Linked DNA regions of Homo sapiens. The protein of the gene in region 4 interacts with the protein of the main gene of each other region in a biochemical or structural test. Each region holds a gene or a part of one and is shown on either strand. Other genes may lie near its edges.

Evidence for each region.
Region 1: of the proteins of NCF2 (region 4) and PRKCD, one has a biochemical effect on the other in vitro, tested with the Homo sapiens proteins (one study listed by IntAct).
Region 2: the proteins of NCF2 (region 4) and PLA2G4A form a complex in vitro, tested with the Homo sapiens proteins (one study listed by BioGRID).
Region 3: the proteins of NCF2 (region 4) and S100A8 form a complex in vitro, tested with the Homo sapiens proteins (one study listed by BioGRID).

What each region holds. Positions count from the first base shown.
Region 1 is NC_000003.12:53,164,200-53,171,228, forward strand, and holds part of PRKCD (protein kinase C delta type), read left to right. Parts: exon of another isoform or gene 1-904; 5' UTR 905-1,016; intron 1,017-4,503; exon of another isoform or gene 4,504-4,583; coding exon of another isoform or gene 4,584-4,621; intron 4,622-7,029.
Region 2 is NC_000001.11:186,825,095-186,831,955, forward strand, and holds the start of PLA2G4A (cytosolic phospholipase A2), read left to right. Parts: upstream 1-3,854; 5' UTR 3,855-3,941; exon of another isoform or gene 3,942-3,956; intron 3,957-6,861. UniProt on the Homo sapiens protein: Has primarily calcium-dependent phospholipase and lysophospholipase activities, with a major role in membrane lipid remodeling and biosynthesis of lipid mediators of the inflammatory response.
Region 3 is NC_000001.11:153,389,522-153,395,285, reverse strand, and holds S100A8 (protein S100-A8), read left to right. Parts: upstream 1-4,245; intron 4,246-4,309; exon of another isoform or gene 4,310-4,429; intron 4,430-4,711; coding exon of another isoform or gene 4,712-4,750; coding exon 4,751-4,891; intron 4,892-5,042; coding exon 5,043-5,183; 3' UTR 5,184-5,254; downstream 5,255-5,764. UniProt on the Homo sapiens protein: S100A8 is a calcium- and zinc-binding protein which plays a prominent role in the regulation of inflammatory processes and immune response. It can induce neutrophil chemotaxis and adhesion.
Region 4 is NC_000001.11:183,587,440-183,594,737, reverse strand, and holds the start of NCF2 (neutrophil cytosol factor 2), read left to right. Parts: upstream 1-4,278; 5' UTR 4,279-4,408; coding exon 4,409-4,582; intron 4,583-7,298. UniProt on the Homo sapiens protein: Subunit of the phagocyte NADPH oxidase complex that mediates the transfer of electrons from cytosolic NADPH to O2 to produce the superoxide anion (O2(-)).

The DNA.
Region 1 (7,029 bases), on a different chromosome or scaffold from region 4:
ATATCTCCAGGCCTCAGTTTTTTCAGCTGTGTAATGGGCACAATAGTAATGTGAGAATCACCTGAACTGTAAGGCACAAGAGATTAAAAAATGTCACTCTTCAGTCTGGGCACGGTGGCTCACACCTGTAATCCCAGCATTTTGGGAAGCCGAGGCAGGTGGATCACTTGGTCAGGAATTTGAGACCAGCCTGGCCAACATGGTGAAACCCTGTCTGTACCAAAACTACAAAAATTAGCTGGGTGTGGTGGCGCGCACCTGTAATCTCAGCTGCTCAGGAGGCTGAGGCACGAGAATCACTTGAGACCAGGAGGCAGAGGTTGCAGTGAGCCAAGATCGTGCCATTGCACTCCAGCCTGGGCGATAGAGTGAGACCCTGCCACATTAAAAAAAAAAAAAAGTCACTATTCATTTGGCATTCTCAACATGAGTCCAGCACAGGAGCTGGCACGCCACATCATTGGAACCTCAGAACCACCTGGGGAGAAGAGGCTAGTAGTTTCCCCATTAAAAAAACTGAGGCTCAGGGAAATTGCACCAGGACATAAAGTGGTGGTACTTTGTTGCACCCTAGGACTCCTAAACCTGCAAGGCAACCTCCCACAGACAGGAGGGTCAGGAACAGGTTTTTGCTGTGTTATTGGCTTCCTCACCAGGCTGGAAATGTGCTCAGGGCAGGGACACAGTGTTCCAGCCCCTACCATGGAGTGGACAAATAGTGGTGCCCAGGAAAAGTTGGGCCCAACACCACATTTCAAGGAAGGGAAAGCCACATCCAGAGAGACCCGAGGTTTTAGGTCCAGGAGAGACTGAACTGGGCCCGTCAGCCATGCTGGGACTGGTAGACGGGGAGAGCCTGTTTGGCGGTGCCTCCCGGCTCAGCTGTTTCCTCCTGTTCCTACAGGTCTGCAGGGAACTGGCCAGGCAAGGGGGCAGGCCCGTTTCTCCTGGTGGTTGGTGCGTTGTAGCAGCAGCGGGAGCCAGGACTAAGGACAAGCAGGAGCTGGGAGCCCCAGGTAGGACTGAGTTCTCTTAGGCAGATGGATGGTGCACCGGTGTAGCCTTCCTCTCTGGCCTCTTTGTCCTTTGCTGTGGAACTGGATGGGGTTGGGCATGCATGCAGAGTCCTTGATCTGGTTGTGGGCCCTGTGTGCCCAGGGGCCGCAGCTGTTTGCCCTGTCTATGAGGGGCTCTCTGCTCATGAGGAACTTCCTGCCTAACCTGGCTGTGGCCCCAGAATGCTCTCACCTTGGAGCTCAGAGGCCTGGGGCCTACCATTAATTTGGGGCAAAAAGTAGTAACGCTTTTTTGGTCAGTTAGAGAGGGTGGCTCATGGGCCAAAGATTGAGGGTGGGTGTGTCAGCTTTTCCATGGCCCTGTATCTGCCTCAAACTCACCTCATCATCACACAAGGACACTGAAATTCCCCGTGGGCCCCACAGTGGGTTGGACACTGCAGGGGGATGGAATGGGGTCTCCAGCTCCAGGTACAGCTGAGCTGTCTTCCACACCCCAGGCCCCTCCATTTTCCCCAGCTTCTCTGGAGCCCGAGCAGGGCTCAGTCCCTCTCTTCAGCTTCCAGATTCAAGGGGAGCTAGGCAGAGTCTGGAACAATGCTGGGAAGGCTGCAGTCTCTTTGAATCCCCTCAGAAAGCTAGAAATTCCTTGTTTTGGGGCGAGCCTTGCCTCCTTCAGCCCTATTACCATGAAAACATTGCTGTGGGTGACTCCATACTCATTCCAGGCTGGTGACTGGGTGACCGGGCCCCAGTGAACAGGGTACTGGTGGTGGGTATGGGTGCTAATGAAGCTGGAGCCTCGGAGTAACAGTGGGGGGATAGCAAAGACCGTCTTTCCTCCAGGAGTGCTCCCTGAGCAGACCCTCACAGCCAACCCTACTGGCTGTTACGCACCTATAGGTCTGTGAGTAGAGCCATAAAGGCTGGGCTTCCTGGGCCTGACTCTGGGTTGGGGGCAGAAGGGAGGTCAGGGCCTTCACTCTGGGGTAGGAGTTGGGACAGAACAGGAGCAGTCTTCACTGGGCCTTCTGTGTATTGGACCTGTCCCTAAACCTGGTGTGGAGGAAGTAAAGCGCCTTTGGCTGTCTAGGGGCCTCTGCCACCTAAGTTCTGAAGAGCCAGCCCTTTCCGTCACTCAGCCTTGTTTTGTAAGGAGTTTGATTAGTCTTGGAGACAGCCCACTGTAAACCCTCAGACATCACCCTCCAGCTGCACAGACATATGCGTGCTCACACAGGGATATGGCAAGCTAGGCTGCAGTGGGCATGCACACCCACAGACTCATGAGTTCCTGTACGTGCACCACACATGTGGGCATGCAGGTACACAGGTGCTCACATGCAGCCACCCATGGCACACTCACACACACACAGATGCTCTCCCAGTTACCGTTGGCATCCATGCACTCAAATGCCTGCCCACACATACCGCACTGTGCCCATTCTGGGGTCAGGAAGGGGTCCCTGGTCAGAGTTACAGCCCAGTCAGGTCGCCTGCATCTGGCACCTGAGGGGCAAGTTCCAGGTGTGGCTGTGATCTCAGTAAGGGGGGCTGGGCCACCCTGGTAGGTGGGCTCTGCCCATGCATTCAGCAGCCACCCTGCCCACCTGGCCCCAGGCTCCAGGCCGACCAGGGATTGGCATGGGAGATGGGAGGCATGAATGCGGGGGAGAGGCTGTGTCAGCTGTGCCAGCACTGTGTGCCTGCTGCTACAGCAGAGGAAGTAGGCTGTCTGGCCATGGGGCCAAGGTGCTCACAGTGGGTGGGGGTCCTATCAACTCCTGTGTCCCCCACGGTGTCCATGCCTAGAGGGAGTGGAGTTGCTGGGCTCTAGGGACTGAGAGGTTGGCAGGGGCTGTCTGTTCACTTCCCAAAGCCTGGGCCTAGGAGAGAGGCCCATCTGTTCAAGGCGTTTCCGGAGGCTTACTTCCTCTGAGCTGCCCAGGAAGTGGTTTTGGAGTGGGACTGACCAGCCCTCTGTCAGTGGCTCTACGCCTTGCTCCGCCCCTGCCTTGCCTGCCCAGGGGAGCAGCGTCTGGCCACCGGGTTAGGCTGACTGACCAGGCTTTTCACTGCCAGGGCTGCCCAGGCCTTTTTGGGGGGCTCTAGGAGAAGGGCAGGGGGCAGGTCACGAAGTCCCCTGCAGTCCCCACAACCGTGGCTCCTTTCTTGCTCTGAGCCTGTAAGCCGAGGCTCAAGAGCATCAACTCTGGTAGGCATGGCCCCCTTGAGAGAGGTGATGGCTGGGCTGCATCTTAGTGACTAGGCAGCTCCCAGCAGCTCTATGAATGAACCTGGGCAAGTGGCTCTGCCGCTCAGTGCCTCAGTCTCCCCCTGACAGATGAGATAATGATAGCATCCATCTTGATGAGGTTGTGCGGAAATGACAGATAACATATGCAAAGTAGCTGGCATCGTGCTTAGTGCATTGTCAGAGTTGAATGAGTAGAAACTGTAGTTATGTAAAGCATTTAGAGCCCAGTTCATGGGAACTATTCAAAAAATAGCAAGTGGGACTGATGAGGGGGTATTATTATCTGATGGGCTGGGCACTGGCCCAGTGTTACATGGCCAGGTGGCTGTGGAGCCTGGCTGAGGAGCCAGGTCTCTGACTCCCTCATCCCCCTCAATTCTACCTCCAGTGGCAGTGCCCTACTTGTTCAGTAGGTTCCATGCCCTCCGAGGAGAGGAGCTCCTGTTGGAGCAGCTCCACCCACTCAGCAGTCCAGCCCCTGCCTGCTCTTCTCCCCCTCACTCCCTTTCAAAGGGAGAAAATAGATCTCGTGACAAATGGATGCAGGGAGGGGAAAGGCAGTCTGCAGCTGCCTGCTGCCCCCTCAGGGCTCCCCTTGGCCCTCTCCAGCTCTGGCCTCCTGCAGGACATTAGGCTGGGAGAATTGGCTGGGAACGAGGGGGTGGACGTAAGCCCTCCTGCCAGCCTGCTTACCCTTCAGACCCCTGGAGTCAGCCTGTGGGCTGGGGCAGGGAGTGGGCATCTGGGACTGATGGAAGCTAGAAGAGTAGGGGGAGCTAGAAAACCCCCTACACCCATGGCAGCTGGGGGCAGGGCCCAGCCTGTCCCAGGGACACGAAGAAGGTCAGCACAGTTAGGGTTGGGCTAAGCATTGGCCTTCACTGTGTGGGGCCCAGAGGCTGGGGATGAGGAGTGTTGAGGAGTGGTAAGGACAGTGATGCAAACAGCAGGGGCCTGAGGGCTGGAGAGCGAAAGGTGGATGGGCCTGGGCGGGAAGTGTGGTTGAGGGTATCCTGAAGGCTTAGGAGCAGGACTTCTGCAGGCATCAGACAGACCCTGGTTGAATCCTTGCTCAATATTTACTGGCTGTGCACACTTGAGCCAGGGACTGGACCGTTCCCCACTTGCCTCGTCTGTGAAATGGGCAGATCACGGGGTGTGGTGTCCTGTGAGACATGAACGATGGGAAGGAGCCACTGTGTGGGGTGGGGTGGAGCAGGAAGACGGAACAGCAAGCCCAGAGGCTCCTAAGCGGGAAGGAACTGGCTGCTTCGGGAACTGAAAGGGGTCAGCGTGGCTGGGGCACAGGAATGAGGGAAAGGCAGCGCCTGCCCGAGAGGTCAGGGAGGTAACGGTGATGGGGAGGGGGGTGGCGGGGGGCAGGCTGCATGGAGCAGGCTGAGGGGAGGAGTCTGGGCTTGTCAGAGGGGCAATGGGAGGCACTGGGGGCTTGGGCAGGGGGTGACAAAATCTGTCTGAAAAGCCCCGTCTGGTGGCTGGAACAGGGGGACTGTCGGGCCGGGGTAGAGGATGGAGAGCAGTCAGAAGACAGGTGCAGAGCCTGGGGATGGTGGTGGTGGGAGAAGAGGATTTGAGACTTGAGGACAGGCTGCAGCGGCAGACGGGATGGCCTTATTGTGTGGGGAGCAGGGGGAGCTGTCTGGCCTGAGCCACTGCCTGAGCTCGTGCACTCCTAGTGGATGAGGAGCGCTGGGAGGGGAACGGCGGGGGACTGGTGTGGGCAGGCTTGAGCTCTTCTGGAGTCATTCATGTGGTGAAGCCAGGGAGGCAGGTGGGGCCACAAGCCTGAAGTTCAGGAGGGTCTGGGCCCAAAGTAGAGACGGGAGCCTAAAGCCAGGATTGGGGAGGAGAGGGCTCAACAGGCCTTCTAAGGGGTGGGGGAGCATTTGAGAGGCCCACGAACAGGACTGGGATGGCTGTCCCTCAAAGGTCTCTGCCAAGGCACCCAGGAGGGCAGGCTTGTGGTGGCTGAGCCGCTGTTTTCACAACAGCTCCGGAAGCTTTGGATCATGTCTATGGCCGTGTTGGGTAAACAGGCAGAGCAGAGCAGGCAGTCGCCAAGGCCTGAGGCTAGATCAGATGTCTGCGTGGTGTAGGTTGTGGGCTGGGGTTGTTGGGGTGGGAGGAGGATCCCAGGGTCCTCCAGTGTCAGGGCTGGAGAAAGCTTAGAGGTCTCCATTGTTGAGACAGGGAGGCTGGAGCCCCGGGAGGGGCAGTAGCTGGCCAGCCTCTGCCAGTGGACTCATGCTGCCTGCTTCAGCCCAGTTCTGCCCAGAGCCTCAGGCCAGAACAGGGCACCCTGCGGCTGGGGGGCTTAACAGAGCCTCTTTTCCCACTTTCCAAGGAAGTCTGGAAGACACCAGAGCACTTGGGCCAAGATCGCGGAGCACCCAGGCAGCAGATCTGAGCTAGGCCTGTCTAGGTCCAAGCTCGCCGGTTCCTCTGTCCGCTGCCTGCTGTGGGATGGCGCACCATGCGGGATGGTCCTGCCTCTCTCCCAGCTTTCTCAATATCCCCAAAGTGGGGAAGCATCATGTGGATCCTGCCCAGATCCTGGGGATGACTGGCAAAAGGGTTAGGTGGCCATCTTGCCTTCTCCCAAACACAAAACGATTGTTTCCAATGGTAAACCATCTGGAAAATCGTGGGAACTCTGTGGGAGAAAGAAGGGCTAAGGAGTAGGGCTCTTGTACTGGGGGCTGATGGAGGAGCTGTTCCCATCTCCAAACACATACCCTCACCCCATTGGAGGCCAGATGGGCAGTTCTAGGACTAGAGCTGGAAGTTCTCTCCCCACTTCCCCCTGGGTCTGCCCCATTGGCTTTGTGGCTTTGGTTGAATTGCTCAACCTCTCTTTCGGTTTCTGCACAGTGAGCCTGGAGCTCAAGGAACTTGCTCCTGGGGTGCCCGGCTTGCTGCCCTACCAACATAGGTTCAAGCCCTCCCCTCCCCCTGCGCGCCAGGCCTGTGACTGCCACCTGTGACCTTCAACCTCCACCATAGCCTCAGGGCCCTGCAGGCAGGTGGGCGGGCGGGCGGAGGCCTGCCCAGTGATGTGCCTGACCAGCCCACTCCTTCCCTTACACACTTTAGACTTTGCTCTGGATCAAGAGGGACTTTCTTCGTCTCCCTGGGTGGAAAGGCCCAGCCTAGCCTGACACCAGCTGCCCTTCTGCCCCTCCTCCATTCCCCAGCCATTGTGCCTGGGGGCTGTGGTGGAAAAAGCTGCATTTGGACTTCATGGTGCCAGACTCTAGTCAGGGATGTGGGGTCCTTCCAGGACTGTATGTTTGTTTCTGTGTCTGCCTGGAGCATCTCTGTGCCAGTGTGTACATCACAGCTTGTGGCACTCCACGTGCGTGTGGAGCCTATGTGGTCGGGTGTGGTCTGTGTGGGCCCGGGTATCTGTTGAGATGTGAGAGCCGGTGAGTGCATGTGTGTTTCTGTGTGTGTGTGTGTGTGTGTGTACGTGTGCCCCTGTGTCATCACAGCAGTGTGTGTACGTACCTGTGGCTCCAACTGTGTGCGTGTGTGTCTAATGTCGAGTGGGGCTCCCTATGTGCTGTTTGGGTTGGCGAGTGTGCCTGTGTGCACACGTGTGGTTATTCGTGGAGAGGCCCGGCTGCATCCCCCACCCTGGCTCCTCACAGAGGCCCCTTGTCCTCACAGGATCTGGCTCTCTGGCTCCTGCCATGAAGGGGCCTTTGTTCCTCTCTCAGGGGTACCTGGGGCACC
Region 2 (6,861 bases), 3.2 Mb from region 4:
CATACAAGTAGAATAATGAATTCTGCTGGACAGGGAAAAGGGTAGGGAAATTTTCCAGACAAGATAGTACTTGAGCTAAGCCTTGCAGGTTGAGTAGGATTATTCTAGTGGAATTTAGGGAAACGATGTGCAAGGAGAATAGTCTCTTAGTTTGAATGAAAGGTAGAGGTCAATTAGTGGGATGCCAGAAAACTTGACAAGGTGAGAAAATCATTTTCTGTGACTTGCTATTTTACTAACCTGATTGATTTTGTTAATACCTAAAAAGAGAAATGATTCATGTTAATTATATTCACAGATACAAATAAGTAGCAAAAATATCAACTTATTATTTTACTATAAATACAGTTGGACCAGAAGACTCAAGCATAGCCTGTGGAATAGAAGGATACATTATTATAAGTAAATTAGTTGATTGGTAGCCATTTTCTGATTTTACCTGCAATCTGGATTAGATTCCCTATTCAACTCTCTCTTAGTACCCTATGCTGGCTAATCATCTTCATTTTCTATCCAGATTTAATTCTCATATACTACCTCATTACCCTGCTCAAGTTTATCAGAAACAAAGCAGTTTCATATAGTTAGAGCAGAAGATAGGTGAATTGGAAATAGTAAAAAAGATAACAGAAAACAACTCCACATAAAGAAAGAAAAATCATTCAAAAGAAGACATTTATGCAGCCAACAGACACATGAAAAAATGCTCATCATCACTGGTCATCAGAGAAATGCAAATCAAAACCACAATGAGATACCATCTCACACCAGTTAGAATGGCGATCATTAAAAAGTCAGGAAACAACAGATGCTGGAGAGGATGTGGAGAAATAGGAACATTTTTACAGTGTTGGTGGGAATGTAAACTAGTTCAACCATTGTGGAAGACAGTGTGGCAATTCCTCAAGGACCTAGAACTAGAAATACCATTTGATTCAGCCATCCCATTACTGGGTATATACCCAAAGGATTATAAATTGTGCTACTATAAAGGCACATGCACATGTATGTTTATTGTGGCACTATTCACAATAGCAAAAACTTGGAACCAACCCAAATGTCCATCAATGATAGACTGGATTAAGAAAATGTGACACATATACCCCACGGAATACTATGCAGCCATAAAAATGATGAGTTCATGTCCTTTGCAGGGACATGGATGAACCTGGAAACCATCATTCTGAACAAACTATCACAAGCACAGAAAACCAAACACCCCATGTTCTCACTCATAGGTGGTAATTGAACAATGAGAACACTTGGACACAGGGCGGGGAACATCACACACGGGGGCCTGTCGTGGGATGAGGGGCAGGGGGAGGGATAGCATCAGGAGAAATACCTAATGTAAATGACGAGTTAATGGGTGCAGTAAACCAGCATGGCACATGTATACCTATGTAACAAACCTGCACGTTGTGCACATGTACCCTAGAACTTAAAGTAAAATTAAAAAAAAGAAAGAAAGAAAAATCAATCATACAAACATCAGGGTTCCCCCTCCCAACCCCCTGGGGTTTTTGAGCCATGGCTTTTGACAAGTAGGTGTTCTTTGTTAGTTAATTTGGCCAGTTTTGGGGTTGTTCCTTTTGATTACTTATCTAGTTCTTAGCTTATTATTCTCTTTCTAAAATTTTAAAGATGTGGAAAATTACTAGCAAACTGCATGAAACTTATTAGCTGGAAATAGTGCAAATGGTAGAATTGGATTCAAAGAAGCTGCTATGATATTTCTCAGTTTCAGATGGGTCCCAGATGACTAATCTTTGTTGATGGACAAACCAAGTGGAGAGGGGTCTTCAGACATAATTGATCCTATAGACTGAAGCACGCTATGGAAGTCAGGGCCTATCTTACCTAAGGTGGAAGCAGAGGTTTTTGAAGTCAGTAGGTCAATGCTGAAAATATTTTTGGAGGAAATTGGGCAAAGTGAAGACGGCAAATCTGAACTTGTACTATCCACCTAGGGGTCTATGTGAACAGTGAGATCACAAGTAGTGAGCCAAAATAGATGAGATAAGGAGGCCATAGAACCACAAAATGGGTAAATGGGATTTGGTCTGCACTGATTCCAGAGAGGAAAAGACATACCTGCAGCAGCCTTTATTCATTATAAAGGTGGAGATAAATCAGCTTCATTTAGTAAGGCGGGAAAGAGACAAACTTCTCCCCGTATATATTAACCCTAACCATGACATATAATGACATTTTCTTTAAAAGCGTTTAAATAAATTTTTTATCTTTAATGCATGACACACTATTGGATATCATCTGGAAATATTGAGAGCTATAACTTTTTGTTATCAAAAAAGCACTAGAGCACTTTTTTTGTGCTCTATAAGCAAGCACTGTGAAGCTGCTTTTCCAGGGAGTCTTTTTTATCAGAGTCTTAGAACGAACATGCCCTGCAGTATAGATTCTTTCTTTCACCAGTTGTGTCTGGGGGAAAGAGATGAAAACTACCAGTGTGCTCTCTGCTCCTCTAATTAACATACACCTCCTTTCTAGAAATTCAGGGATTTCTTTGGAAAGAGAAATTTTTTTTTTTTTTTTTTTTTTTTTTTTTTTTTTTTTTTTTTTTTTTTTTTGAGACGGAGTCTCGCTCTGTGGCCCAGGCGGGAGTGCAATGGCGCAATCTTGGCTCACTGCAAGCTCTGCCTCCCGGGTTCACGCCATTCTCCTGCCTCAGCCTCCCAAGTAGCTGGGACTACAGGCGCCCGCCACCACACCCGGCTAATTTTTTGTATTTTTAGTAGAGACGGGGGTTTCACCGTGTTAGCCAGGATAGTCTCGATCTCCTGACCTCGTGATCCGCCCGCCTTGGCCTCCCAAAGTGCTGGGATTACAGGCGTGAGCCACCGTGCCCAGCCCGAAAAATGTTTATTATAAATCTATCCTTCCTAAAAAAGACATTACTGGCTTTTTTTTTTTTCAAAGAGAGATTTATAATATGCCAGGTTGAATTTAGGGGAAAAAAATAAAAACAAATAAGAGTTGAATGTTGGGCTACAGAAAGCAGATATTCCAGAAGATTTAGTGAAATTATATTCTTTGAAAATATTGTAAGAGAGTTAGGAGAGTGAGTTCAGTATTTAATTAAAGGCAAAAACAAGATCCTGTGTTTGAAAAACAAGATATACTAAATGAACATGTCAATCTTTAAAGACATGAATTGATTCTCATGGAATTTGGGTACATTTAAACAATGCACCTTCTTCATTACAGTGCTATAAGGTATTTGGATTTACACTGCAAATTTGGAATTCAACCTGATTTCATTTTCTTCCCTAAATCTCAACATATATATTACATTATTTGGTATGCCTTTAATCTTAAATTTACAAAGAAATTATTATCAACACAGGTGTTCTGAGTCTGGAGTGGAAATATTTAAACAGATTTGATTTTTAAAGTGGTCTGATACTCATTTTTTAAAAATGTACATTTTTATATTTGGGGTTTGTTATAAACTTTGCCTTTTTAAATAATGCAAAAATGCTCTAGGTTATTCACTGTCTTTTCAATTTTGTTCTCCTTTGGAAAAAAGGAGGAAGTAGTTACTACTTAAGGACAAGTAGCAATTTCAGACGCGCGCACGCACACACACACACACACACACACACATCACACACACAGAAATCCACAACAGCACTCATGGAATTTAGGACTGATTAATTTACATATTATTTAAGCATATTTTCTGACTTCAAACTCCTGGTTCTAATAACTAAGCATTTACATTTACAATATTAGCTTCTATGAGAAGAGAGCGTTCTCCCTCTTCCCCTTTAATTCCACCTTAAAACATCTGCAAAAGCGCAAGGAGACCAGCCCACATTTTAGCCCCTCCTACTCAGGATAAGACTTTCTCTAAGTCCGGAGCTGAAAAAGGATCCTGACTGAAAGCTAGAGGCATTGAGGAGCCTGAAGATTCTCAGGTAACTCTGGGAACTGTAAGCAATATATTTATTCTTCCTCTGCTCCACTTCTCTCTCCCACCCTCCTTAGCTTTTACTTGGTAGTTTACTTGGAAGGAAGAAAGGACGGAGGGGAAACCTCGCTGCTTTAAAAAGTCAGCATGTCCTCTGCCTTTTGAAGTGAAACACAGATTAGGGACCTCAATTTTCTTCAAACCCACGCAGATTTGCCTTCCTGGATCTAAATGCACTGTGGAGTCAAAGATTAAGGTGTTTCTTTGGGTTGGAATCCCAGAAAGTTAGCATTCAAAACGGCGGTGAGGTGGCGCTTATTAGCGTTCCACGTGATGACACCCAATGGTTACTGATCCCCAAACTTGAGCAGCAGCATGCTGTGCTGTTTGACAGCCCTAGCGATCTTTAGCGAGAGACTTTGTTGACTCACTTAACTTTTAATTTCTAAAAATTGGTCATTTTTGTTACTTATGGGACGCTTTCCTGGCTAGTCAATATTTTGCAGAATTATGCGAAAGAAAGAGGATTATTGAAAAATTAACTGTAAACGGACTGGTGTTCTGATGATCCACCCTTCCCCTAAGTTACTTGGCTTGCCAAGAGAAAAAAAAAATCTCAAAACTAGATACTAGAAAAGATTTGATCAAATTACATAGTTAAATTTTGAGTGTGGATATTTCAGTAATTTTGTTTCCAAAAAAAACAGAAAAAAAAGGTATTTGATTTTAAAGTATCAGTGGATGAATGTATCTGTCTCCTACAATTTATAATCATTTTAGTCTTAAAAATAAATTCACCTCCAAAACCAGAACAAGAAATACTCCTCATATGGGTTGATGATGTCAGCATTTATTCAGCTAAGGCAGATGGAGAGTATTAGAGGCGTACTGTCTGAATGGGTGTCAATTCTAAAGTTATATTTGCCAATATAATTTGAGTTCAAAGAAGATTTGTATTTTTGTTTCTCTTTGTTGTTTAAATTTAGAATTGTGGCTCAAGGGATATTTGTAGAGGACTGTAGTGAAACAAGCTCTGTTAAGAATTTTAAAGTTACATTCTACAGGTTCCTACACCTTGCCAATCAAGTTAGAGGTTGGGATAAGAAACAGGTATTTACTTCTTTCATTAGCTCCGGAAGAGTTAAATTTTAAATTAAGCAATAATTGTGAAATGCATAGAGAAGTGTTTAATGTGCATTTGCTCAAAGGAGTTTTACAAACTTCCCTTAGGGGAAGCATATTTTTTGAGATAAGACATTGCATCTTTTTAACATATTTTTAAAAAGTAAGTTATTCTGGCTGGGCGCAGTGGCTCATGCCCGTAATACCAGCACTTTGGGAGGCCGAGGCGGGTGGATCACTTGAGGGCAGGAGTTCGAGACCAGCCTGGCCAACGTGGTGAAACCCCATCTCTACTAAAAATAGAAAAACTAGCCGGACGTGGTGGCAGGTGCCTGTAATCCCAGCTACTTGGGAGGCTGAGGCATGAGAATCGCTTGAACCCAGGAGGTGGAGGTTGCAGTGAGCCAAGATCGCGCCATTGCACTCCTGCCTGAGCGAAAACAGCGAAGCTCTGTCTCAAAAAAAAAAAAAAAAAAAAAAAAGTAAGTTATTCTGAAGTGTTTTGCATTTTTGCATTTACATTTAATTAGGAAAAGAAAAATTATTAAATAGATTTTTAGCAACTGAAAATGTTCATTCCATAGAGGTTATTTGGCTTATGTTTTTAACCCATTATCTTTTCTAGTGCTGGTACTTAGAAAGCAGTCATAAAATCGAATCATCTACATATTAAAATTATGTTCCAGGAATAAAAAAGAGGAAGACAGAATTAGTTGTGGTTCCCATTCATCTTGTTTGCTTTTATTTACCATCAGTTTTTTCCTCCTTCTTGCTCCAGATTGTATAGCTTGCTTGCTTGCTTGCTTGCTTTCTTTCTTTCTTTCTTTCTTTCTTTCTTTCTTTCTTTCTTTCTTTCTTTCTTTCTTTCTTTTTCTTTCTTTCTTACTTTTTCTTTCTTTTCTTTTTCTTTCTTTTGTTTTTGTTCCATCAAAGACACTTTTATAATCTTGTGACAGGTATGGACCCCTCCCTAGAATAATGCACATTATGCCATTCCAACACACACAAATTTAAAAACACCTTTAAGAAGTTCACAAATCCCCAAAGACAATTCATATTACATGAAAATGCAGTATTTCTTAAAACTTTGGAGTTTTCTGATAATATAAAATGATTAATTATAAAATCATTTTACTTATAAGTAAGGAACTAACAGTGGATATTGTAGCACCCACATAGTCATTTATTCATTGGTATTCTAGAACTCCAAGCAACTTGGTATAATGGAAAAAACTGCTTGCCTGAAACCAGGTGACCTAGGTTCTAGACTCAACCCCAATAATAATTAACTGTACAATATTACGCTTGACATTTTTCTGTAACATCTGTTGCTTTTATTGCCGAATGCAGTAAGTGAAACATAATAAGAAAATCAGATGCAAGTTATTTTTTATTGGATTGTGGGGTGTCTATATTTACTACTTTTATTCCAAAATTCCTAATGACATTTCCCAGAATGATTAGTTTTTATAACACTATTGTTTATTATAAAGATAAATCACACTCACTGCTTAAAATTTCATTAAATATAGAAAATTGCAAGGAAGAAAAAGAAAATATTACCTATTATTTCCCCCAAGGTACTTTTAAAATGTAATTCAATCATTAATTCAATCAACAAATATCTATTGAGTACCCAGTATGCATCAGCAAAGAGACAGACAAGAAGTTCATGTATATACATGTTTATATGTCTAGATATGTTTCTATACATACATGTAGTTTTACAAAATTGTGATCACACTGTTCATGCTGTTTTGTAACATGCTTCTCCCTCATTCATGAGATGCATTGTTAAAACATGT
Region 3 (5,764 bases), about 30 Mb from region 4:
CAGACACATGTTAAGGGAAGAGCAATGAGTAGAACCTGGGTGACAGTCAACCCAGGAAGGCTTCCTGAGGGAGAGAAGGGTTGGGTCTGTTTTTTTCTACAACATGATGATGGATGTGAGGGTTACTCCTGACCCAGGGCTATTCATGAACCACTGATCTGAGTCCTCCGGTATCCCTGACCCCACCCACCTGAGACCTGTCCCTGCCCTTGCTCTGTTTCTTTTTCCTTTTCCTCTCCCCTGGGACTCTAGGGATCTAATGCAGAATCCCTTAGGGAGGGTCTCCTCTGCCTTCAGGAAATGCCAGAGCCCACTTTAGAGGGTTGTCTTTTCTGAGGGTTGGTCTGGGAACCGGTGTCCTGAGCTTACTGAGATAGAAATCATGGATTTTGAAAGAGTGTTGGGGGGTGATATACCACCTGCGCACAGGACTGCAGGGTCACTTAAGAAACTTGGTCTGGTTCCCTCCCCACCTGGTCCTTTGCGCCAAACATGGTGGATTGTCCCTGGAGCTGAGCTGGAGACCTTGTTTCTCATCAGTCAGGCTCTGGGGCAGAATTTGCCCCTGCTGCTCCGGGCCTGGCCTGCTGTCCCTCCCACACTTGCCATCAGCTTAGTTTGCCTTTCAGGACCTAGCTGGGCCCTCCATTCCTTGGGAGATGTCTGCACCCCATTCCCCTTTGCATTCTTTCCTGTGGAAGGGCATCTTCTGCCACACTGTGCTTGTTTTGTACTCTCCGCCGAGACAGGACCTCAGTGTCCCCATAAACGCTCAGCAGGTGTTTGGGGAAGGAATGCAGAATTGGGGCCTGTGGGGCTGGAATTGATGACCTAGATCTGTGCTCCTTCCTGCAGGCCCCTGGCTGTGTCTAGAGGCATGAAGACCATCGCCTGAGTTACTTTGGCCACTCTTCTTGCAGGCCCAGGGGAGAAATACCTGTCTCACCTGAGAAGTGCTGGGCTCCACAGGCATTGAGTACGAAGCAGGGGCACCCAGCCTGAGCCCTCCCTGCCCTCTCCTGCCCCCTTCTGGGGGTTTCTTCACCAGCTCTGCCTGCTCTGTCCTCATTTCCTTGGCCTCAGGGATGGACCTGTCAGGTCTGTTGGGACACACCCAGGGACTGAGCCCTTTCCTGTAAACATGACCAGGTTCCGCTCCCTCTAGGTTGCCCCATGTCCGCTAGGCTGCTTACAGCCTCTGCCTTTCCCCAGATGTGCTTACCCAAGTCCTGATACCTTTTGCTGCAAGGTCAGTTCAGCCTGGCTCCTGCTGTCCCCAAAGCACCCAAGGCTGTCCAGGGGCGCAGTTTCTGGGGAGGGGGCGACATTTCACGATCTTGCTGGTCAGCCTGTACATGATGTGGGAAGGAGGTCACCACTCAGGACTCCCTCACTGGACCAGGGGAAGGACCTGAAGTAATGCCCTGTGCCTCAGTTTCCCCATCTGTCAAATAGGGATAATTATACTTGTAATGTCCACATCACTAGGTTGCTGGGAATATCAAATGAGTCAGTGGATGCAAAATACTTTGAAAATATGATATGGTGCTTTGAGGCAGGTGCTGTTATGCTGGTCACATAGGATAGTACGTGGTGAATAATAGGTATTAACCAAGGGTGGATCCTTGGTTGAAAACTTGTCATGTCAGAAATGGCGTTGTTTTCCTAGATGGAGCTTGATTCATCTTTTGTCAAGGAAGTCAGACTGCATTTGTTTGATGAATTTATACCCTGCCTTCTTCCAGAAATGATTTAAGATGGCTGATTGTGATAAAGAGAATTTCTGCCTTGGATAAGGGAAGGGTCAAACTTAATTTTGTATTCATTTATCCCTCAATAAGTATTAATTGAACATGTAGTAGCTGCCAGGCCCTAGGGTTGTGAAAAGAAATGTGATTTCTTTTCTAAATGGTCTCCTGGTCCCAAAGAAAAGACAGACAATAAACAAGTGAATCATAACATAGCAGGGCAAATGCTGTGATGGGTAAGGATTTGGGTAGCATGGAGGAGAGAAGAACTAATTCTGCCTTGATGGGGTGAGGGCAGGTGGATCAGGGATGGACTTGGAGCAGATGATGCCTGAGCTGGATCAGGAATGGTGAGGAGGACATTACAGGGACAAAAGGCATTACAGGCAGGAATAGGAAGTGGATGCTGTCACATCACATCATGAGTCACTCAATCATTTGATACGCTGAATTACTATGTCTCTCTGTGGGGCTTAGTTTCCTCATCTGTACAATGGGCATTATAATAGTACATACGTCATTGGATTAGTGTGAGAATTAAATGATCAATGCAAATAAAGCAGCACTTAGAATAGTTCCCGGACATGGGAAAAGCTCAGTGAGTGTGAACTAGTATTTTGTCATGATTTGCTCTGATCAGTGATTGTGGCTGCTGTTATTGTGTGTGCTGGGCACTGTGCTGGGTCCCCAATGGCTCACATCCAGAGAGAGCTGGATTTATTTTGGAGGGTGAAAGACTCCCTGCTATGTTTATGCAATGGCTCATGCCCTTGTGCAATGCAGAGGGACCCCAAGCAGCCTCCATCTCCCAGGGCACGGTGGATCCCCAGCTTCACAGAACAGGAGAGCTGTGGAGGAGTGTGGGCAGCAGGGTAGGAATGGATTTAGCCCTCGGCAACAACACATGTCCCCACAAAACATTTTCTTCATCCATTCATGTGTTGAGGGACACTTGGGTTGCTTCCACCTTTTGGCTCTTGTAAATAATGCTGCTATGAACATGAATGTACAAACATCTGTTTGAATCCCTGCATTCAATTCTTTTGCATATATACCCAGGAGCAGAATGATGGATCATATGGTAATTCTGTGTTTATTTATTTGAGGAACAAACTTGCCGTTTTCCATAACAGCTGCACTATTTTACATTCCCACTAACAGTGCATTAGGCTTCCAATTCTCTATGCCCTCACCAACACTTGTTTTCTGGGTTTTAAAAGAAGTAGTAGTCATCCTTGTAGGTGTCAGGTGGTATCTCATTGTCGTTTTGCTTCATGTTTTCCTAAAGATTAGTAATTTTCATATGCTTATTGACCATTTGTATATCTTCTTCGGAGAAGTGTCTATTTGAGTCTTTTCCCCAATTTTTGATTGGTTTGTTTGTTTTTTGTTGTTGAGTTGTAGGGATTCTTTTATATTCTGGATATTAATCCCTTATCAGATATTTGTTTTACAAATATTTTCTTTGTAACAACAGAAACACACCACAGTCTTCAAGGTTGGAAGCCAGTTAATCTGAGTAGCATTTTGTTAGTGGTGGGGAGAGGATTTGTTCCTCCTGAAATCCTGGGGAATTGGCCACCTCCTCTTCTCCTCTTAGGCATGAAGCGCGTCTGGCTTCTCCAAAGAACTCTTCCCCTCCACTACCTCAGAGTTAGCTTCCTCTCTTCAGCCAGTGATCCTGGGGTCCCAGACACAATAATTAACCAAGAGAGGGTGAAAGGCTCCCTGCTGTGTTTATGCAATGGCTCAGGCCCTTGTGAAGTGCCGAGGGACCCCAAGCAGCCTCCATCTCCCAGGGCATGGTCCATCCCCAGCTTCACAGAACAGGAAAGCTGTGGAGGAGTGTGGGCAGCAGGGTAGGAATGGATATAGCCCTTGGCAACAACACATTTCCCCACAAAGCACCCACCCAAAAGAACAACAACGATAGTTTTAGTTTTTAGTAATGAGAACAATAGTTCTCATGACTAAAAGCCATCAGCCAGGACACGTGTTCTCAACCCTTTTGCGGTCTTTGGACCCTTTGAAACTCTGACAGAAGCCATGGAGGAATGTTCTCACTGAGTGCATGCACTCAAAATGATGCATTCAACTTCAATTCAGTTTCAGGGATGTATGGCCTGACCACCAATGCAGGGGATTAGCAATCGCAATAGTGGAGAGGGCATGGGAGTGGGAATCTGGCTGGATCAAGCAAGTGGATGCCAGCAGCCCAGAAAAAGAGCCCCCCTACCTGCTTTTTCCTTCTGGGCACTATTGCCCAGCAAATGCCTTCCTCTTTCCGCTTCTCCTACCTCCCCACCCAAAATTTTCATTCTGCACAGTGATTGCCACATTCACCTGGTTGAGAAACCAGAGACTGTAGCAACTCTGGCAGGGAGAAGCTGTCTCTGATGGCCTGAAGCTGTGGGCAGCTGGCCAAGCCTAACCGCTATAAAAAGGAGCTGCCTCTCAGCCCTGCATGTCTCTTGTCAGCTGTCTTTCAGAAGACCTGGTAAGTGGGACTGTCTGGGTTGGCCCCGCACTTTGGGCTTCTCTTGGGGAGGGTCAGGGAAGTGGAGCAGCCTTCCTGAGAGAGGAGAGAGAAAGCTCAGGGAGGTCTGGAGCAAAGATACTCCTGGAGGTGGGGAGTGAGGCAGGGATAAGGAAGGAGAGTATCCTCCAGCACCTTCCAGTGGGTAAGGGCACATTGTCTCCTAGGCTGGACTTTTCTTGAGCAGAGGGTGGGGTGGTAAGGAAAGTCTACGGGCCCCGTGTGTGTGCACATGTCTCTGTGTGAATGGACCCTTCCCCTTCCCACACGTGTATCCCTATCATCCCACCCTTCCCACCAGAGCCATAGCCATCTGCTGGTTTGGTTATTTGGAGAGTGCAGGCCAGGACAAGGCCATCGCTTGGGGCATGAATCCTCTGCGTACTGCCCTGGCCAGATGCAAATTCCCTGCCATGGGATTCCCCAGAAGGTTCTGTTTTTCAGGTGGGGCAAGTCCGTGGGCATCATGTTGACCGAGCTGGAGAAAGCCTTGAACTCTATCATCGACGTCTACCACAAGTACTCCCTGATAAAGGGGAATTTCCATGCCGTCTACAGGGATGACCTGAAGAAATTGCTAGAGACCGAGTGTCCTCAGTATATCAGGGTGAGGAGGGGCTGGGTGTGGCGGGGGCTCTCTGCCTGGTCCTGGGGCTGCCCTGGGCCAGCGGTCCTCCCTGCCACCCTTCATAGATGGCTATGCCTCGGCTCTCTCTGAGATCTTTAAACTCTGGCTTCTTCCTCCTCAATCTTGACAGAAAAAGGGTGCAGACGTCTGGTTCAAAGAGTTGGATATCAACACTGATGGTGCAGTTAACTTCCAGGAGTTCCTCATTCTGGTGATAAAGATGGGCGTGGCAGCCCACAAAAAAAGCCATGAAGAAAGCCACAAAGAGTAGCTGAGTTACTGGGCCCAGAGGCTGGGCCCCTGGACATGTACCTGCAGAATAATAAAGTCATCAATACCTCATGCCTCTCTCTTATGCTTTTGTGGAATGAGGTTCCTCGGTGTGGAGGGAGGGTTGGAAAACCCAAAGGAAGAAAAAGAAATCTATGTTATCCCACCCTACCTCTCACAAGCCTTTCCTGCTTTACCCCTCACCTGGCCTCTGCCCCACATTCCCTTCCAGCCCCTCCATCTTGAGCCATTGGATTTGAGGCTTAAGGATTCCAAAAAGTCCATGACACTATAGCTGATGATTTTACTAGTGGTTCTGAAATGGGTCGGGGATTTGGGAACAGGGTGGTAGTATAAGAACAACTGATACTGTTCTCTAAGCTAAATTTTAGCTTCCAGCTAAATGTCTTAGATGTGGCTCTTGGGAAATTAGAGTGATAGCTACATAGAAGTGTGTGGGTGTGTGTGTGTGTGTCTGTGTGTGTGTGTGTGAGAGAGAGACAGACAGAAAGAGAGCAAGAGAGGGAAGGGGGGAGAGGCTGATTGTGTGTGTGGTGTGATGTAGGTGGACAATGTTCAGAG
Region 4 (7,298 bases):
TTTGTAGTGTTAACCAATCATATGCAAATCTTGCTTATTTGGAATTTTGGAATAATTTTGAAAATATCGAGATGAAACTGAGTTACCCAACCAATGCCTCAACAAATTTTATTTAACAAGTAATGTTTATTGAACACCTGCTATATGCCAAGCCCTGTACTAGGTACCGAGAATCCAGTGGTGTGTGTGTCAGAACATTTTAAACCATAACTAATAGAAAACTTGATATGAATGACTTAAACAATAAACAAACTTATTATCTAACCAAACAAGAAATTCCAAGGTAGATCAGTTTCAGACTTGTAGAAAACGTTATTTTTATCTTTTAAGAGATGGAGTCTTGCTCAGTCACCTAGGCTGGAATGCAGTGGCGTGATCATCACTCACTGCAGCCTTTGAAGTCCTGAGCTCAAATGATCCTCCCACCTTAGCCTCCTGAGAAGCTGGGGCTACAGGCATGTGCCACCATGCCTGGCTAATTTTTAGTGTTTTTCTGTAGAGATGGGGTCTGGCTTCATTGCCCAGGCTGGTCTCTAACTCCTGACCTCAAGGGATCTTCCCACCTAAGTGTTGGGATTACAGATGTGAGCCATTGTGCCCAGCCAGATTTGCAGAAAACAGATAATGCAACACATCTCATCAGCATAACTAAGCATCTGAGCTCTTTGTAATTTTCCATTCTCTTTTCTTTCAGACAATGGCTTGTTCTTAGTTGTCTCCCCTCATGATTATAAGACAGCTGCCATATTCCAGACACATCTCACAATGCTGTCTAGTAGAGAAACAAGTGCTGTTTCTTCTCATGTGTTTTATTTTTTATCACTGGGGAAGAAATCTTTCCCAGAAATTCTTAGCAGACTTTCCCTCCTGAAGCGCATGGCTTCAGGAAACTGGAGGCTTGAACAGAACTGGGGTTCTACCAAAAGGAGGAAGGCGAATGGACAGTGGCTGAACAGACCGTCTACTAACAGCACCAAGTAATGATTAAATAGACTGCCCCTGCATTGAGGGACAGAAACAATGTCACAGATGACATACAGTTACAAACTGTAACAAATACATGATCAGAGAGAACCGTGCACATAGCAAGGTCATGGATCTAGAAAGGCCACTCATTGAGGAAGTGAAAGATGAGTAGGAACTAGCCAGGCAGGCTTGGGGGAAGAGTGTTACATGGGCGGAGGAAGAGGCTGGCTCATATGAAACCATGAAAGGAGGCCTGTGTAGCTGGAGTTCTTGGGAGAGGAGGAGGGGAAATGACCTGGAATGAGCACAGGGCAGCAGGCAGGGGGCTTCCTGCAGCATGGGAAGGAGTTCGGGTTATATCCTGAGAGCAGTGCAAAGCCATGGAAGGTTTAAAAACAGGGGCCATGAAGTGATCTGACTTGTGTTTTTAAAAGCTCAATCTGGATGGAGAGGCAAAGAAATGTTAAAAGACTATCATGTTCACCTGGGAGTTGATAGTGGCTTGGCCTGAGTGGTGACAGGAGAAGGGGAGGGAAAGTGGATGAAATGGAGCATGAATGGCTTTGCTAGTGCCCTGGGGGATACAAACATGGGTTAGCCCAGGACTTCCTCCTGAGGCACACTATTTGAGGTGCTAAGACTTGCATGCACATACATTGGTGAAGAGTGATTAAGGGCCACATGGGAGGTGCGGAGAAGGAGATGCAGGAGTTCAGAAGGCGAGATCATGGGTTTGAGCGCTTTCAGGCAGGACTGATTTCAGGGCAGTGTGTTAAGGAGAGTGCTATTTTAGCAGGCCTTCGAAGGCTATGCAAGGTGGGTTTGAAGGTGCAGACATGGGAGAGGGCAGCCTAGAAAGAGGAACTAGCACGAGTCGCACAGATGCAGGAATGAAGGCATAGCGGGAGAAGAGTAAGCAGCAGAGTTTGTATGGGATTGTGAAGGAAAGTTCTGGGGATAAGGCTAGAAAAGTCTTGGCAGTCAGATTAAGGAGAGTTCTGAGTGTCAGGGTGGGATAATAGGAGGGCAAAAACATTTTTTAAAAATGAAGTCTAATTTAGCTACAAATCCATTTGGTTTTCTCAGGAATAATTAATGTGCTATTCAAGTCCTGATTATTTATTCACTAGATGGAATAGCAATACCTCTTTCTGCCATCACTGCTACCTGCAGGTCATTTACCAATGATTTCTAATTTCTTTTAGAATGTATCCCTTCATCATGTATTGAGTATCTGTGCTAGAGATCCTAGAATGAAAAGGCATGGTCCCAACTTCCAAGGAGCCCATGAATTGAGCAGATAAAGAGATAAATTGCAGTAAGTATGATGCAAGTTTTTGGGTAAAGGTGGTACAAAGGAGAGGAAAATTCTCCTACTACCCAGAGTTCAGGGCTAGATTTAGCACAGTTGGTGACATTTAAACTGGGCTTTGAAAGATGAGTAGGAGTTTGCCAGGCAAAGAAGAGAGCTGGGAAGGCCTTGTAAACACAGGAAAACAATCTGGACAAAGACACACATGTCTTCTTAATTCTCACACCTTCAATCCTACAAGCACTGTGGAGTATACATTTTTAAGTTTTATTTTCAGGCTTTTAGGGGAAGCTTGGTGATAATGAGTGAATTCTTTCAGTTGCTACAAAACAAGAGTTTGCATCTAAGTATTTGACCCCCATAAACATGCATTTTACCTAAAAAGAAGCCTGGATTTTAGCAAGCCAAATTGGCTATACCCTTTACCCCCAGTTATTCCTCTGGGAGGTTTTACTGATTTTTACTTTTCTGGAAAAGCAAGGAAAGAACTCTTAAATCTGTTTTTTCAGAGACTAGTAAATCCATTAGTCATCAGTGCAGGACTTTCATCTCTTCAATTTTTCACTGGAAGATGGGAGAAGTCATAATTCACTGTCATGTGGCTCCCAATTTTGACATTTGCAGGAAATTGGTCCCCTCTGAACTTCATGAATGTTCATAAAAGTTATTTCGGCTGGGCACGGTGGCTCACTCCTGTAATCCCAGCACTTTGAGGGGAGGCCGAGGAGGCCGAATCACCTGAGGTCAGGAGTTCGAGACCATCAGCCTGGCCAACATGGTGAAACCCCATCTCTACTAAAAATACAAAAATTAGCAGGGCGTGGTGGCAGGCTTCTGTAATCCCAGCTACTCAGGAGGCTGAGGCAGGAGAATTGCTTGAACCCAGGAGGCAGAGGTTGCAATGAGCTGAGATCGTGTCACTGCATTCCAGCCTGGGCAACAAGAGTGAAACTCCGTCTCAAAAAAAAAAAAAAAAAAGTTATTTCAGGCCCAGATCAGATGGATCTCCAAAGATTATCCTGTCTCAAAAATTTGTTAATGATAATTTCAGCTCAAGATAAACACTAACATATTAATACAGCCTATGGGATTACAAAAAAGTGAGCAAGGAATTCATTCAAGACTGGAAAGAATTATCCTCTCATCTGACACTCCCATTTAACAAGGGTGTGGAAATCAAGGCCCAGTGACACAGGATTTTTTCTCCATCACTTTGTAAGCCAGGAACCTCTGGCTGGTGACACCCTGCCCAGGCCTCAGTGGGCCACACTACCTGCTGCAGGAGATGGCCTGCCCACTCGGCCTGGGTGGGGAGTTTTATTGAGTGATGAAAACAGCTTTCAGTGGAGAGGGGATGCAGGGGTGGTTCCCCTACCCAAAGGCAGGAAAGTCCCCCCAGTGCGGGTGAGTCTGGGGCTTTTATGGGCTCAGAATAGGGGAGGGGCAGGACATAGGTAGTACTGGAAAAGGCAACATTCAATTGGTTAAAAGGCATTAGTCAGAAATAATTAATTGGGAAAGAGCAGACAAACAGGAACAGAAGTTCTCACTCTAGGTCACGGGTTTCATTTGGGACCAGTAGCCTAGTCTTTCAGCCTTCAGGCTGTTTTTGGCTTGAAGGTGGGGTTTCACCAGGGACCTGCCCCTATCTGCCTAGGCATTTGGCTGCCTCCTGTCATTATCACCAGGGAGGTGCCTCTACCTGCCAAGGTTACCCTGGCTCTAGAAGCAGAACTTTGGCCAGAAGCTGCCACAGAACAGGGGTGGGAGAGAGAAGAGGAGCTGGGTGACAGAGCAGAAGCATTTTGGGGAACTGATCCTTCAGGCAGCAGCTGATGTACTTCCTCTCTCCTCCACACTCCACCCCTACTCGCCCTCTCTCTCTCTGCTTCTTTCCTTTTCTCTCTCATGGTAGGGTTATGAGTCAGTTGCCAAAAGGTGGGGACATTTCCTGATGCATTTGCAACACTGAGAAGTTATCTTAAGGGAGGCTGGGCCCCATTCTACTCATCTGGCCCAGAAAGTGAACACCTTGGGGGCCACTAAGGCAGCCCTGCTAGGGGAGACGCTCCAACCTGTCTTCTCTCTGTCTCCTGGCAGCTCTCTTGGCCTCCTAGTTTCTACCTAATCATGTCCCTGGTGGAGGCCATCAGCCTCTGGAATGAAGGGGTGCTGGCAGCGGACAAGAAGGACTGGAAGGGAGCCCTGGATGCCTTCAGTGCCGTCCAGGACCCCCACTCCCGGATTTGCTTCAACATTGGCTGCATGTACACTATCCTGAAGAACATGACTGAAGCAGAGAAGGTGAGTGGAGGTGCCTCTTTCCGGGCCTCCTCTGTGCATTTGTTATTATGATTCTCAACCCCATTGCATTTCGGAAACCTAACCTCTGGGGAGATTGAAAAGAACAAAAGTTGCCCAAGCTCCACCCCTAGACAGCCTGATTTAACTGGTCTGGGAGGGGCCCCAGGCAGCCAGTTTTAAAAGCTCTCCAGGTGGAGAGCAGGTGAGGGGCAGCCAGGGTTGCCTCTTTCTCCATCTTCTAAATTAAAATCATTCTACAAGTGTCTTTAACACCTTTGTGAAGGCTGTCCTAGTCGTACTTTCTTCTACACAGAACTCCTTCTGGGCACAGAATCTCTATCTATCCCAGCGCTTTACACCTGATTATTGATTCTAAGGCACCTCTTTTGGCTTTCCAAGACTTTCATGTGTGTCGACTTTGCCTGCTCAAGAGATTTAAGGGAGGCACTTACAAAAAATAGCTTTTATCCCAAGTGACAATTCTGATCAATTATAAAGGAGACTCTTTTAAAGATGCTGAGGCTGGCAAGAGGAAATTGTACTGTGATTGACTAGTGATGTCTGCTGGGGGCATGGTGTGGGATGTCTCGCATCTTTTTCGTTATGTTTTCTCACTCAAATACCATAGTATGGAGTTAAGCATTCTCGATAATTATTTTTTTGATTGGTTGTGGTAAGGTGGAAAGGGTATGGAGTTTGGAAGGAGAAGATCTAGGATCGAATCCTAGCCTCTGTCTCTCTCTGGACTTTTAGTCTTAAGCAAGCTATGTAGCCTATGTAGACATCTGGCTTTCAGCTTCCTGAGTTTCTAAATATCATGAAAATTAAGTGAGATGCCAAACTATTAATGTCTCGTGGAACTTCACACCACTGTATAAGAGTTAGTTATTATTTTTACCGATTACTGCCAGTCTTTGCAAGGTGTGGCAGTGGTTGACTCCCCAGGTCCCTTAAAGAATCAGTCCCTTCCACACTCCAACAGTAGGTAAACAAGCCTCAGCCACACCCTCCTGACAGGAAGACAGAGAAGTGACTGAAATGTTCTCACATAGCTTGACAAGTCAATCTCAGGCTCTAAGGCAGAGCATGGCAGGACCCCCCACCTCTGGCTGGAGGAAGGACATGGCCCCACCTCCTCTCAGGGGCCTGCTGAGGGGCTGAGTGAACAGCACCACACATTCTGAGGGCTGATGGACACAAAGTGCACATTGTCCAGGAGAAGAGATTGGCAGCTAGTCTGGGCACAGCTATGCCAGCAGGGACTGTAGCCTCCTGCCTTGGCCTGGATATGGGATCCTTGGCAAGGTTGTGTGGGCCACCACTCACTTCTCAGCTCCCAGGCCTTCAGGCCCACATGTCTCTGTTTCTCCTGGCATTCCTCTGCTTCTAGCCTTCTCATTCCTTCTGCCTTTCTTTGTTTTCCTGCTTGAGCCCTTCCTACTAGCATTTATATGCATTCTTATTCATTATCATTTTAATTGTATACTATTCATGTATAAGTTTGTATAGTAAACAAATATAACAATTTATATAATATTTTAATTATTTTCATTTGCAATAAATTTTATTATTTATTTAAACTGAATGTTCAATACATTCATAGGAATACAAGAAATGCAACAAGGGTTAAAATTTCATTATTACATTAGATATCATTTTTTCTTTCTTTTTTTTTTTTTTTGAGATGGAGTCTCACTCTGTCACCCAGGCTGGAGTGCAGTGGTGCAATCTCGGCTCACTGCAACCTCTGCCTCCTGGGTTCAAGTGATTCTCCTGCCTCAGCCTCCCAAGTAGCTGGGATTACAGGCATGCACCACCAAGCCCGTCTAATGATGTTTCATTTTTCAAAGAAGCTTCTCCTATTTCCCTATCTTTTTTATCTTCCACAGAGCAATAAATAGTAATTACTACTCTCCTGGACAAGGTGCTCTGTTGTGTTGGATAGGAATTGTATCTTTAAGTTTGACATCATTATCACCTCCAAAAACTCTACCTTCACTTCATAGCACAGTCTCGCTGCATTGTTTCACAGTAAAATTGTACTCTACTCAAACTAGGAGAACTCAAAGAAATTAGAGCAAACAGCAGTTAAATTCATATGAATGAAAGACAGAAGACCAAAGATTTTAAAGTACTGATTTAGTAACATAGTGTCTACTGGCTCAAAGCTTCTATCTAATCATATTAAATCATATTATTAAAACAGCGATAATAGAAATGAAAGCTACACTAATGAAAAAGGAACTTGGGAATGAGGTCATTAAATATAACTAACTATATTTTAAATATAGATATGTATTTTTTATTAGTATCAGGTAAATGTCTAAATTATCTATTCTGAATTCTAGTCTCAGAGAAGGTCAGAGACAGTTACAAAGAAGGCGCTTCATATTGTCAAGTCCATTTTTAAAATGATGAGCTCCTTTGGGAAAATGCTTTAGTGTTTCTTTTCTTCTAAGATTTCTGTTGGTGATAATCCATTAGTGTCTGCACCCTTATAGTCCACTTTGTCTTTATTTGTATCATTGGATTTTTTTTTTTTTTTTTTTTTTTTTTTTTTGAGACAGGGTGCCTTACTTTGTTGCCCAGGCTGGAGTGCAGTGGTGCCGTCACAGCTCACGGCAGTCTCCACCTCCTGGGCTTGAGCGATTGACCTACCTCAGTCCCCCAAGTAGCTGGGACCACAGGCATGTGCCACCACATCTGACTAATTTTT